2 separate regions of the Homo sapiens genome follow, and region 2 is linked to region 1. Evidence: fine-mapped expression QTL. A gene starts in region 1. The other region holds a variant in brackets. All regions are shown on one strand. Distances are between the middles of the regions.

Region 1 (5,375 bases):
TTAATAAGAAATTAGTCCTTTGTGTAGGAGTTAAACCCTTGAGTGACAGAGAGAAGGAAGTGCTGGCTGTTTACCAGGCCAGCACTTTCTGAAGTCTAGAGTCTAATGGGGTTATAAATATCTCTTGGATCTACAAGTAAGAGTCTTTATTCACGACAATTCTGGATTTCCAGCTACCACATGTGTGTCTGTTCTTAATTGGAAGAAAGTGGCCCCGAGGAAGGAGTAGTGACTTTGGAACCAAAGAGACCTGGGCTTCAAGCTCTGCTCTGCCATTAACTAGCTTTATGATCTTGGCAAATCGTTTACCCTACCCCCAAACTCAGTTTCATCACACGAAAAATGGGGAAATAATAGTAATTTTGCAAAACCTTGTGTCTGGCACATAGCAGGTACTTAATAAATGTTAGCAACTTTCATTAATGTTAATAATCACCAGGCCAGATTCTAAACCCCAGGGCACTTTTCACAATGGACAGACCCTGGAATGGCCCTACCAGAGTCAAATGACTTTTTTGTTAAGTGGCCACCCAGAAGATTCCCAACTTCTCCTCTCATCCACCTCAGCCTTGTAAAGTTTGCAGATCAGGAAAATCCCAGCGTGGGCCTCTGGGTGAGGACTGGACTGTGCTGGGGCCAGGCTCCCCTGTTACCAGCTGATGTTTGCACTCAGGCTGAAGCACTCCCTGAACTAAGCCGGGGTCATTTCCAGTTACAGACGGCAAGCTAGAGAAAAAACAGAGATTCTTGGGCCAAACAGGGGGACCTGCTCTCATCTGCACGAGCCCATCTCACCTTGCCTTTCCAGAACAGTATGCCTGATGAGGTCACTGAATGCAGATCTCTAGCCCTGGCAGGGCCGCTGCCGATCTGCCTGATGCCCCAGCAGGACCCTCCGAGAGCCACACATTACTTCCCCTCTGGACGCCAGCATGACCCTGTCTGTACCTGCTGGTTTAGATTCTCTTAGGCATGGGAACTGAAACCTCCCTAGAGAAGGCTAAGAAAATCTGTTTTCAGAGCATGTACCTTTACTGTTCCTTCCCCGGGGTCCACCTCTTTCAGGGTCTGAACGTCTGTTACATGCAAGTATTTCATTAGGGCAGAAGGAAAGCTGCCTTTCCCCTCAGGACACAGACTCCAGCGAATCTTAGGCAAAGCGAACATGCGGGATTGAAGCCCGCAGTTATTGTTTGTCTCCCACACGACATAAAACATGTGTCTGGCTCAGCTGCTAGAGGACCAAGCAGGACACAGACGCAACTGCGCAGACGTCGGTCCTGCCAGCCACGCTGCGGCCCCCTCGGAATCTCAGGATGGGGCCCCCTGGGCGCCCTGGGGGAGGGCCCAGGTGGGCGAAATGACAGGAGAAAGTGCCTGCGGGCCTCCGCCTGCAGGTTGGATGACTGCGTCCCCGTCACGTCAAACTTGCCAGGACTAGCAAACTTCCAGGGCCCCACAGTTCCACTCAGAGGAAAGGAACCCCCAGTGTGACAGGAAAACACGGCTGGTGTGTGTCGGCCAAAGGGCGCTGACCGAGGGAACAGATCTGCACCCCTGACTTCCCTCGCGGCCTTCGGAGCCGCAGAGAACCAGGATGCCACCCACCCAGGGCCCCGGCGCGCGGCTCTCGGCCTCTACCCGCCCCACCCAGGCCAGGCCGGGTGGCGGGGTCCCAGCAGCCCAATGCGGGCCTCGTCCCCACACTGCCTTCTGCTTGCCCGCTCTGCTCTCTGCTTGGCCAGGCCCCCCTCTGGGCCGCGGGGCGGAGGCTTCCGTGTGGCCGGCGCCTTGAGCGCGCAGGGCCCTCTGGAATCGGAGTGCGGTCGCCCGCTCTGGGGCCTCGGGAGCAAGGACACCGCGGCCCCACGGGCACGTCCGGCTTCTCCGTCCTACCCCCGCTGTCCTGGCCCCAGACTCGCTGGCCGAGACGCCGGCTCCCACAGGCCCTGCCGCCTGCATGCCCACGCCGCGCCGCGAAGGCACTTCGCCCTCTTTATTTTGTAAAACTTCGGAAAAATCACCAGCAAACCGAGCCCCGGTCTCAAGGCTGCCCACAGTTGCCGGCACGAATCCGGACTCACTGACCGACGGCGGCGCATTGGCCCAGCAGACCCCGCCGGTCGGCCCCCACCCTACCCGGGTCCCCTGCCCCGGCCTCATGCTCCCCGGGTGGCGGCGGGCGCGAGGCGCAGCAGCAGCAGCGGCGTCCGCGTGAGGTCCGGCCCGGCTGAAAGCGCAGAGAAGCGGGTCGCTGCAGACACGCTGAGTAGAGCGCCTTCGGCACGGCCCGGGGGCAGGGACCCGGCAAGTCCGGCCCCGAGGCGCGAGCACCGCCACCCGCGGTCTGGCCACGAGGCCGGAGATGCCCCCGAGTCGCCGCGCCCCTCGGAGCGAGAGGCCCCTGGCGCGGAGAGGGAGAGCCAGGGCGCAGACCCAGACCCAGTGGGGAACTGCTACGCTGAAGGCGGCGCGGTGGGCAGAGGGAGGCAGCCGGGGCGCGCTTACCCGGGTGTTGAGGCGCCCTCGAAAGTACGCGGTGGCCAGACACATCCCCGCGCGGAGCCCGAGCCCGGCGGCTCCTCAGCCCGCCCGCGCCCCGCCCCGCCCCTCCGCTCGCTCCCCTGCACGATGAGGCCCCGACCCGTTACCGCGGCTGAGCAGCTCCGCTCGGGCAGCGACTCCCGCGTTCGGCTCCCACGGGGTCGCAGCGCGTCCTTCCGGGCGCCAGCGGCTGGGGCGGCACACGTGAGGCTCCGCGGCCTCCCCGGCGCTCCGAGGACTGCCCTGCTCCGGGCGTGGAGCCTCATCGCCCCTCCAGGTGGCCAGGGCTGGGGGCAGGTACCGCGCGACCTGATTGGCGCTGGCCGGAGTCCGGGGAGAATCCCCCGCCAGAGAGGCTGATGCACGCGGGCCAAGTGAAGCCACGCAGTCAAACAGCGCAACGGGCGCCTTCCAAACACCCCTGCTTAGCTCCGCTGCCTTTTTGCCTAAGAAATGTAAACGCGGGAGGCGGGCGCCCTGGGAACGCCTCAGTACAGGGGACTTTGCGCCCTACAGATCGGGTCCAGGACGGAAAATTCGGAGAGCATGAGAATCTTAGGGACCAGGGTGTGTCGCTATCCACTGGAAAGAGACTGCCTCGAGAGCCTCCCGAAGGGCTCCTCTGTGTTCCTATTTCCGGCCCGCACTGTGCCCTGGAAATCCAGGGACACCTGGATGTCCCCGCCGCTGAGGGGTACCCGGGCCTCGTGGCAGGGCGGGATCAGATCAGTCAGGGTGTGATTAGAGCTGTGACGGTGAAGTCTGGCAGGAAGAGGCAGGAAGGGAGAGAAGCAATGCCTCGACACGAGGAGAAACCTGAATGGTGCGCTAGATTTCTTGTCTGAAATCACCTTCTTTTAATGTCTTAAAACTCTAGGAGTTGCTTATGTGCTGTAGCCCAGCCAATAAGTTCTGACATCAGTAATTCAGAGGGTCTGCTGAGAGAACATGACGGCCTGAGAGGGGATAAGCTGTCACTTCTCCGCACTTCCGAAGCATCTCTATATGGAACGTTTACCTGTTCCGGTCTGATCATCTTTCTCTTGATCCTGCTTTCCGATCTTGATTGGACTGAAGACAGCGAGGACAGAGGGGTGGGGTCAACCCGGTTAATGCTCGAGGAGGGAGCGTTCCCACTACATCAACAGTTTTCCTCTCTTCTTAGGCAGGTTAGTTCTGGGGATTCAAGGCAAAGGTGATCAGGGAATCCATTTGAAAAACAAAAACAGAAAACTCCAAAACATTTAAAAACTGTGGACCCTCAGCCTAGGTCCAACTTCTAAAGAAGGGGAGTAAGAAATTTAGCACCTGGAGCAACCTTATTATTCCTAATACACTGTTAAAAAACAAAAATCCCAAGGCAAGCCACCACCTCATCATTCCAGCAAGTCTACTGTTGTTGCAGCACACTCCACTTTTTACTCTAACTCTACTCACAGGTTTTACATTTTGAGCTCAGATTTTCATGTGCCGTCTTTTCTCAGCACAGTTAAGGCTCGTGCCTACATTCTTCCTCATCTCAAAGGCAAAACAATGAAATATGAAGAGGACGTGTGATTTTGTTATAAACTGTAACACAGAAAAGTGAAAACAACGTACCTTCATAGCCTAATGAATCATAAACCAAACACCACCCAGGTCATTGCTACCACCCCAGAGGTTCCCCTGCTCCACCAATTCCCTTCCACAAGTCCTTCCCTTCCCCCTAAAGCAACTATCCTGACTTTATGGTAATTACTTCCTTACGTATCTTTATAGTTTCTACCAATTTGTAATGTATCCCTAACCACTACAGTTTAGTTTTGCTTGGTTTTGAACTTTCTATAAATTGAATAATATTGCATGCATATTTTTGTGTGTGCCTGGCCTCTTCTTCCATTTGGTTGTAAGAGTCATCTACTTTTGTGGCATGTAGTTGTAGTTCATTCATTTTCATTGCTACTTAATATTCCCTTGTATGGACATATCACAATTTCTTTGTCCATTCTGGCACTTTAGATATTTGGGTTTTTCCCATTGGGGCTATTACAAGTGCTATTGCTAATGACATTTTTGTGTATATCTCCTGGTATGCAAGTGCAATCTTTAGGATGTATACCTTGGGGTGAAATTACTGGACTATAGGGTATGCATATATTTAGTTTTATTAGATCATGCCAAATTGTTTTCCAAAGTGGCCACAAAATTTAGACTCCCATCAGAGATGTACGGTAATTGCCATTGCTCCGCATCCTTGCCAAAATATAATATTATTAGACTTCTTATGTTTTGCCAGTCTGGCGGAGATGTAATGGTGTCTCACTGTGATCTTCGTTTCATATCCCTAATTACCAATGAAATTGGGCACTTCTACATATGTTTATAGGCTACTTGAGTTTTCTGTTTTCTGAGTGCCTGTTCAAATGTTTGCCCATTTTTTTGAGCTGACTTTTTCTTATTGATTCATAAAAGCTGTTTATAAAGTCTAGCTGCTACCATGCCTTGGTCAGTTAGAGACTGCAAGTATCTTCTACTCATTTAATGGTATCTTTTGATCAAGAGTCGCTTTTTAAATTAGAACTTTCATTTTGAGATAATTGTAGATTTGTAGGCAATTGTAAGAAATAATACAGAGAGATTGCAAGTACCCTTCACCCAGTTTCCCTCATTGGTAATATCTTGCAAAAACTATAGTAAAATATCATAATTAGGATATTGACATTGACACAGTCAAGATACACAACATTTCCACCACCGCAAGATCCCTCATATTGCCCTTTCGTAGCCACACCTGTTTCCCCTGTGCATCCTTCCCCATCTCTAATCTCTTGAAACCACTTACCTGTTTCCCA
Region 2 (5,375 bases), 21 kb before region 1:
AAAGAAAAGTAAAAAGGAGTGAAGTGCATCTCAAATGTGAGGGGCCATTGGGTGTAAAGAGAAAGTTCTGTCTATGCTGTGGGGTGTAAGGAGAAAGTTCCCTTTGGTTCTCTGAAGTTTCACTGAAAAATCAACTCGAAAAAGGCAGATTAATTGGAGGAAAGGCATACACATTTATTTAACATGTGTATCTGGGAGCCTTCAGAATGAAGACCCAAAGATACAAGGGGAAATTGTTCATTTTTACGCTTAGGTTCAACAAAGTATGGGCAGCTGTGTAGAAATATGATTGGACACAAAGGGTCTGATCTAATGTGAATAGACTGAGTGGGGAAACCCAGCCAGGCCTGTGGGTCTGGATTCTTCTTGGCCCCTCTGAGCATGAAGTCCTTCCTCTGGGTGTGGAGCAGGGCCCTCTCTGGAATGGGGGGTCTCATGACCTACAGTCAAACAAGGTGGGTCAGATAATTTCTTTATGGGAAAGCGGAGGGCAAGTTAGGTTAATATTTTTAGGTTTCATAGTTGGCTTTGGGGAAAAGGGGTTCTGGTTTCTATGACCTGTCTTGGGGAAGAGAGATTCTAGTTCCTATGGCTGGACTTGGGGCAAAATGGGACTGAGAGACAGGAATGTAGGGGAAAGTCAGAGAAAAACTTGTGCTTCTGAGGCCTTCATCTTGGGGTATTGTTTTCTGAGCCTGAACAAGGCTTATTTCTGGAACCCAGATTGTTTGGGACAGTTTTGTCCATTCATCCATCATGGAGCTGTAAGAGCCCTTCCAAGGTGGCTGAGAAAGTATCAGATCCCTCCTAGGCAAGGTCACTCTCTGTGAGGGAGTTTTTGGGTAGGGAGCCTGGAGGCCCAGCTTTGGGGACTTCTGTCATTTCAGGCCAGCCATTCTGAACCTCCTGTAGTCACACTGACCATGTGTCATTCCCAGGCACTGGGGGGCACTACACCCTTTGTCCACCATTCAAGAGAGCAAAACCATGGATGTGAGAGAGAAAGACTATCTAAGCAATAGTCTCGAACCAGCTCTGATATTTAAAATCAGCAAAAAAAAAAAAAAAAAAAAAATTCCCAAAGCTCAATTCCTTAACCAGTTGTTATTAACTTTACCTACAATACTCACCACAGATCTCAGCATCAGCCCCACAGACCTTTCATGCCCCGATGGCTTCACCACTCTCTAAGCTGCTCCCCTCAAACACTCTAAGCATATCTAAGCAACTCCCACCCCTGTCCCCAGCACTAATTCTATTTTAGGGTCCTCAGCTGGGCAAGAATATTACCGTCTTTTACTTAGACTCCCACAGGCTGACACATGATGTGGCCTGGCCACATGTTTGTGGCCCATGGAGTGGTCCCAAACCGGCAGTATCTTTGGGAGCTTATTAGAAATGCAAAATTGTGGGCCCCACCTCAGACCTGCTGAATCAGAATCCACATTTAACAAAATTTAACAAGATGCCCAGGTGCTGTGTGTGCATGTTCAAGTCTGAGAGTACTGCACTTGGAGATCACATCCCACCCGCCTGCCATCCCTCAATCCTGCCAACAAGTGAAGTGGGGTGACATCCACTTTGACACAGAGCAAACCAGCCTCCACCAGCGGCAGCCATGGGGCGAGGAAGAAAGGGAAGAGGTGGACGAGGAAGGGGGTTGCTACAACGTGTGGAGTGCATTTAAATTGGGGGGCACTGAGATGAAATCTAAGGAGGCAGCCCATCAGTTCTGAGATCCCGCGATCTCTGTGATTCATCAACAGGCAGATGCTGACAAAGTAATCATGGCTAACAATTACTGAGCTCTTCTTATAAGACAGGCACTATTTTAAGTAAAAGAGCATTTCACGTATGGCTTTATATAATTCACACAGCAACCTCCTGAGGTACAGATTGTCACTACCCCCTTTTTACAAATGAGGCAACTGAGGCACAGAGAGGTCAAGTGATTTGCCCCAGGTGACAGGGATGTGTTGCAGAGCTGGGACTTGTACCCTAGCATGTGCCCAGAGCCCATGCTCTTAACGAACATGTGAGACCACCTCCAGAAATGCTCTCCCCCAACAGCCGTTTCTCTGAAGCAGTTACATACCTCTAGGGCGAACAACCATCCTGGTTTGCCGAGGACCGAGGGGATTCTGTGGATTTCAAACTTTTAGTCATAAAATGGGGAGAGTCCTTGACAAGTTGATTACCCTATCAATACCTCATCTACCATGGAAGGGTAACAGAAGGAAAGTAAATTAAATTTAATAGGAAATCTTTGAGAGTACAGAATTTGAGCTGCTGGAGCACTGAATGAGAGGTTGCACAACCTGTTTCCATTTGAAGAACCCCAAAGTCTATCCACGAGACTTTGAACAAGCTTCACTCCCCAATCATGGCTCAGTTTCTCTGTTCCTCAAAATGGGTATATTCTTATCTGCCTCGTCGTTCCCGCCCCTTCTGCCCAGATGTCATGAGAATAAACCAGAGCCTGTTGCTAGTGGATGCAACACCACCAACGTCCTGAGACAAAGTGGGCAGATAAAAATACTGGCTAGTGTTTCCCTTGTCAAGGTCACCCACACCCACACAGGTGTTCCCATCATCTATTTTCTGCAGTGCTGCCAGCCAGTTCTGTGACACTTGTTTCTTTTGAGCCCTGGGAAGAGTGCTTGATTGGTTCAGCTCTCTATTTCACCTGAGAGT[T/C]GTTATGATTCCCCAAATAAAATACAAAGAGCATGCACTCTCTCTCTCTGTCTCTCTTTGTGTGTGTGTAGTCTTTGAGAAATAATATTTAAAAGCAGTTCCCCATCCGAGTTGGATGGGACTGGCAAAGAAGCAGTGGAAGGAATTCAAGGGGAGGAATTCAGACTCCTCCACACACCCAGCTAAGTCCTCTAGGAGAGAAACTCTCCTCAGCCAAGGGAAGGCACTTGTCTTGTACCCATTGCACAAGTCCAAGCATTAGGATTTCTCTGCCATTTTGGGGAGGAGGTCTGGCCTTCAGTTTCTGCATCTGTAAAATGGGACTTGCTATAACCTACCACCAGAAACCCTGTGTCTCCTCTCAGGCTGAGCTTATAGTCCTCCAAAGTCTCCTATGCCCTTTCTCAGAAATCAGCTAAATCTTCAGGTCTTTCCTGATTAACCTTATTAGACTTCTGATTAAAGAATTACACATCCTTAGAGCAGGAAAGTAGGAAAAAGCAGAGTGCATCCCAGCTGCCTTCATTTTTCAGAAGAAACTAGCCAGTCTGGTGTTTTTCAGCCCCTTTGCTCACAACAAGTTTTTTACAATTATTTCGATGGCACTGCTCTGTAATGCTACAGTCAGTGCATATTCTCTGTCCAAGGAAGCTGTTGTAGGAGACCAGAACGTGCCATGCCAAAATATGCCTCTTTGGCATAAGGATGATTTTGAGCTGATTATTTTGAGAAACAACAGATACAGGAGAAGCTCTGAAAAGAGAGTAGAAGTTACCCTTTTGTAAGGGAAAGTTACATCTATAAAGGAAATCACCATTTGTAAGGGTGTCTGTAGCAGGAAGAGAAGCATGGCTAAATCACGAGAAGGTCTTACTAATGGAGCAGGCTTACATCTGCATAACAGACTTTATTCTGATAATTTGCCTGGTCATCTCCCCATAACTGGCCTCCCCCACACCCTTCTTTCTTTTGCCTTTAGCTGAAGATGGTGTTTAAGCCTGAATTCTAAGCTGCCTCTTTGAGATTTACTTATTTTTTCCCTAAGTATCTCCCATGTAGAGATGAAGTATACATGTTGACAAATTTCTATTTGTTTTTCTCCTGTCGATTTGTCTTTTGTTACAGAGAGTCCCAGCTATGAACTCTGAAAAGCAGAAGGAAAATTATTTTTTCCTCCCCTACCCTGGGAACTCCTGGAAGATAAGGACCATCATCATGTCGCCTGAAGTATTTCTCTCCTAGGCCCCCACAGTGTGTGTTCACAATGGCCTCATTCCCCTTGCTGGCTAATGCAGAGCTGGAAGAAGGTATATTCAAGCCTTTTCTTGCACAGCAAGGAGGATGACTAAGGAGCTAAGAGATGTGAGCCGAAGCCTCCCTCAGTGTCTATTTGCTGACCCAATAACCCATCTTGAGCATTCCTGAAGTTGGTGAAAACCAGCTCTTCACTTGATATAATCTTGAATAAAAAAAGAAAGCATTTCCCTCAAATGTGCCCCAAGAAGCTGTGCCATTTGGGCCTCCTTCTCCTCTGTGTCCCTAGACCATGGGTGAGGCAGGCAAATTGCTAGGACAGGGAAGGACCTTGTAAGCAATCTGCAAATGAAAACAGCAGACATCTAGCCTTGTGCATAGGAGCGCAACCAGGTGAACACCTCTCCTCTCCCAAACCGTGACAGGACTGACTGACCCACATACCCAGCATGATCCCAATTCTCTGCAGCCCTGGAAAAAAGACTCTCCTGATGTTTACTCCCATTACAGGCATCTACTTATAAATCTTGGGTAGAAAACAGAAAGAACCATTGAATTCTTGCCACATTCATTTGTAGCAGCTATCTATGAGATAGGTTTCTAACATGATTATCTCTCCCTGCCTTGATACGATTATATGACCTTTTAAAATCATTCTTTCTTTTGTCCATTCATCCATCCATCCATTCAACAAGAGCATTTGGTATCTGCTTCCTGCCAAAATCAATGGGACATTTTCCAAGCTTTAAAATTCCTGGCCGTTAAGCAGCACCCTTTCAGTAGGGAAGTGGAGGAGTGGGGGGTGTTCAGTGCAGAAACGATGTTAAAACACAAGCTCTGTGATTCACCAGCAATTCCTTCTCTCTGAGTCTCCGTTTCAACAGCTCTAAAATGGGAATAATTCCTCCCAGAACTGCTGTGAGGTAAAAGGGAAGAATGTGTTTAGAGCTATACTCAATAGCTGATGCAAAAAAAAAAGGCATTCAATCATTATTAGCTTAAAGGAAGTGACCCAAAAATCCAGTTTGCTGCTCAATACTCGATTATCCTAACACCTCACCGACCCCAGTCAACATTCTCTCCCACATTCATTTTGCCTCTTAGGACAGTGTTCTTGGAGTTTCAATCCTTCGTTGAGCCGGCCCTGTCTTTATTCTGACTGATGGACTATACTATTTTGAGAATGTGATCTGTATCAAAGTCAGCTGGGAAGCTCTTGGAGCTTCTGGGAGGATGGATACATAAAGTCCAGTTAATAAATAAAGACACAGACATCAAGGCTACCGGCTGTCGTAGTAACAAGACTTTATGCTTTCCTGGCTCCTGTCATCTTCGGGACTGAAAGCACTTAATGAATTAGTCTCGCTTGCAGTCCTCCTGGAGAAAAAGACTGCTGTGTCTACAATGTGCAGTCACGGTCACCAGCC

Which allele goes with the higher level. Positions count from the first base shown, and alleles are read on the strand shown. Sizes are in standard deviations (SD) of each study's normalised expression.
For the expression in cerebral cortex of the gene that starts at base 2,784 in region 1, allele T in region 2 goes with a lower level than allele C (small effect, 0.32 SD a copy in GTEx).

Evidence for each region. PIP is the estimated chance that this variant, and not a neighbour inherited with it, causes the effect.
Region 2: its variant is fine-mapped to the expression of FAM163A in cerebral cortex (GTEx, PIP above 0.99).

What each region holds. Positions count from the first base shown.
Region 1 is chr1:179,740,700-179,746,074 of GRCh38, reverse strand. It overlaps FAM163A (family with sequence similarity 163 member A), which reads right to left and starts at 2,784. Exons shown (of 5, transcript NM_173509.3): 1 at 2,652-2,784. It overlaps LOC128071543 (a long non-coding RNA gene), which reads right to left. Exons shown (of 2, transcript NR_138090.2): 2 at 3,378-3,720. RefSeq lists an enhancer at 795-1,487.
Region 2 is chr1:179,761,378-179,766,752 of GRCh38, reverse strand. All of the region lies in intron 1 of FAM163A (family with sequence similarity 163 member A), which reads right to left. Among named protein-coding and RNA genes, the nearest start is that of FAM163A, 21 kb to the right of the region's middle. The variant T/C (reference allele first, on the strand shown) is at 2,695.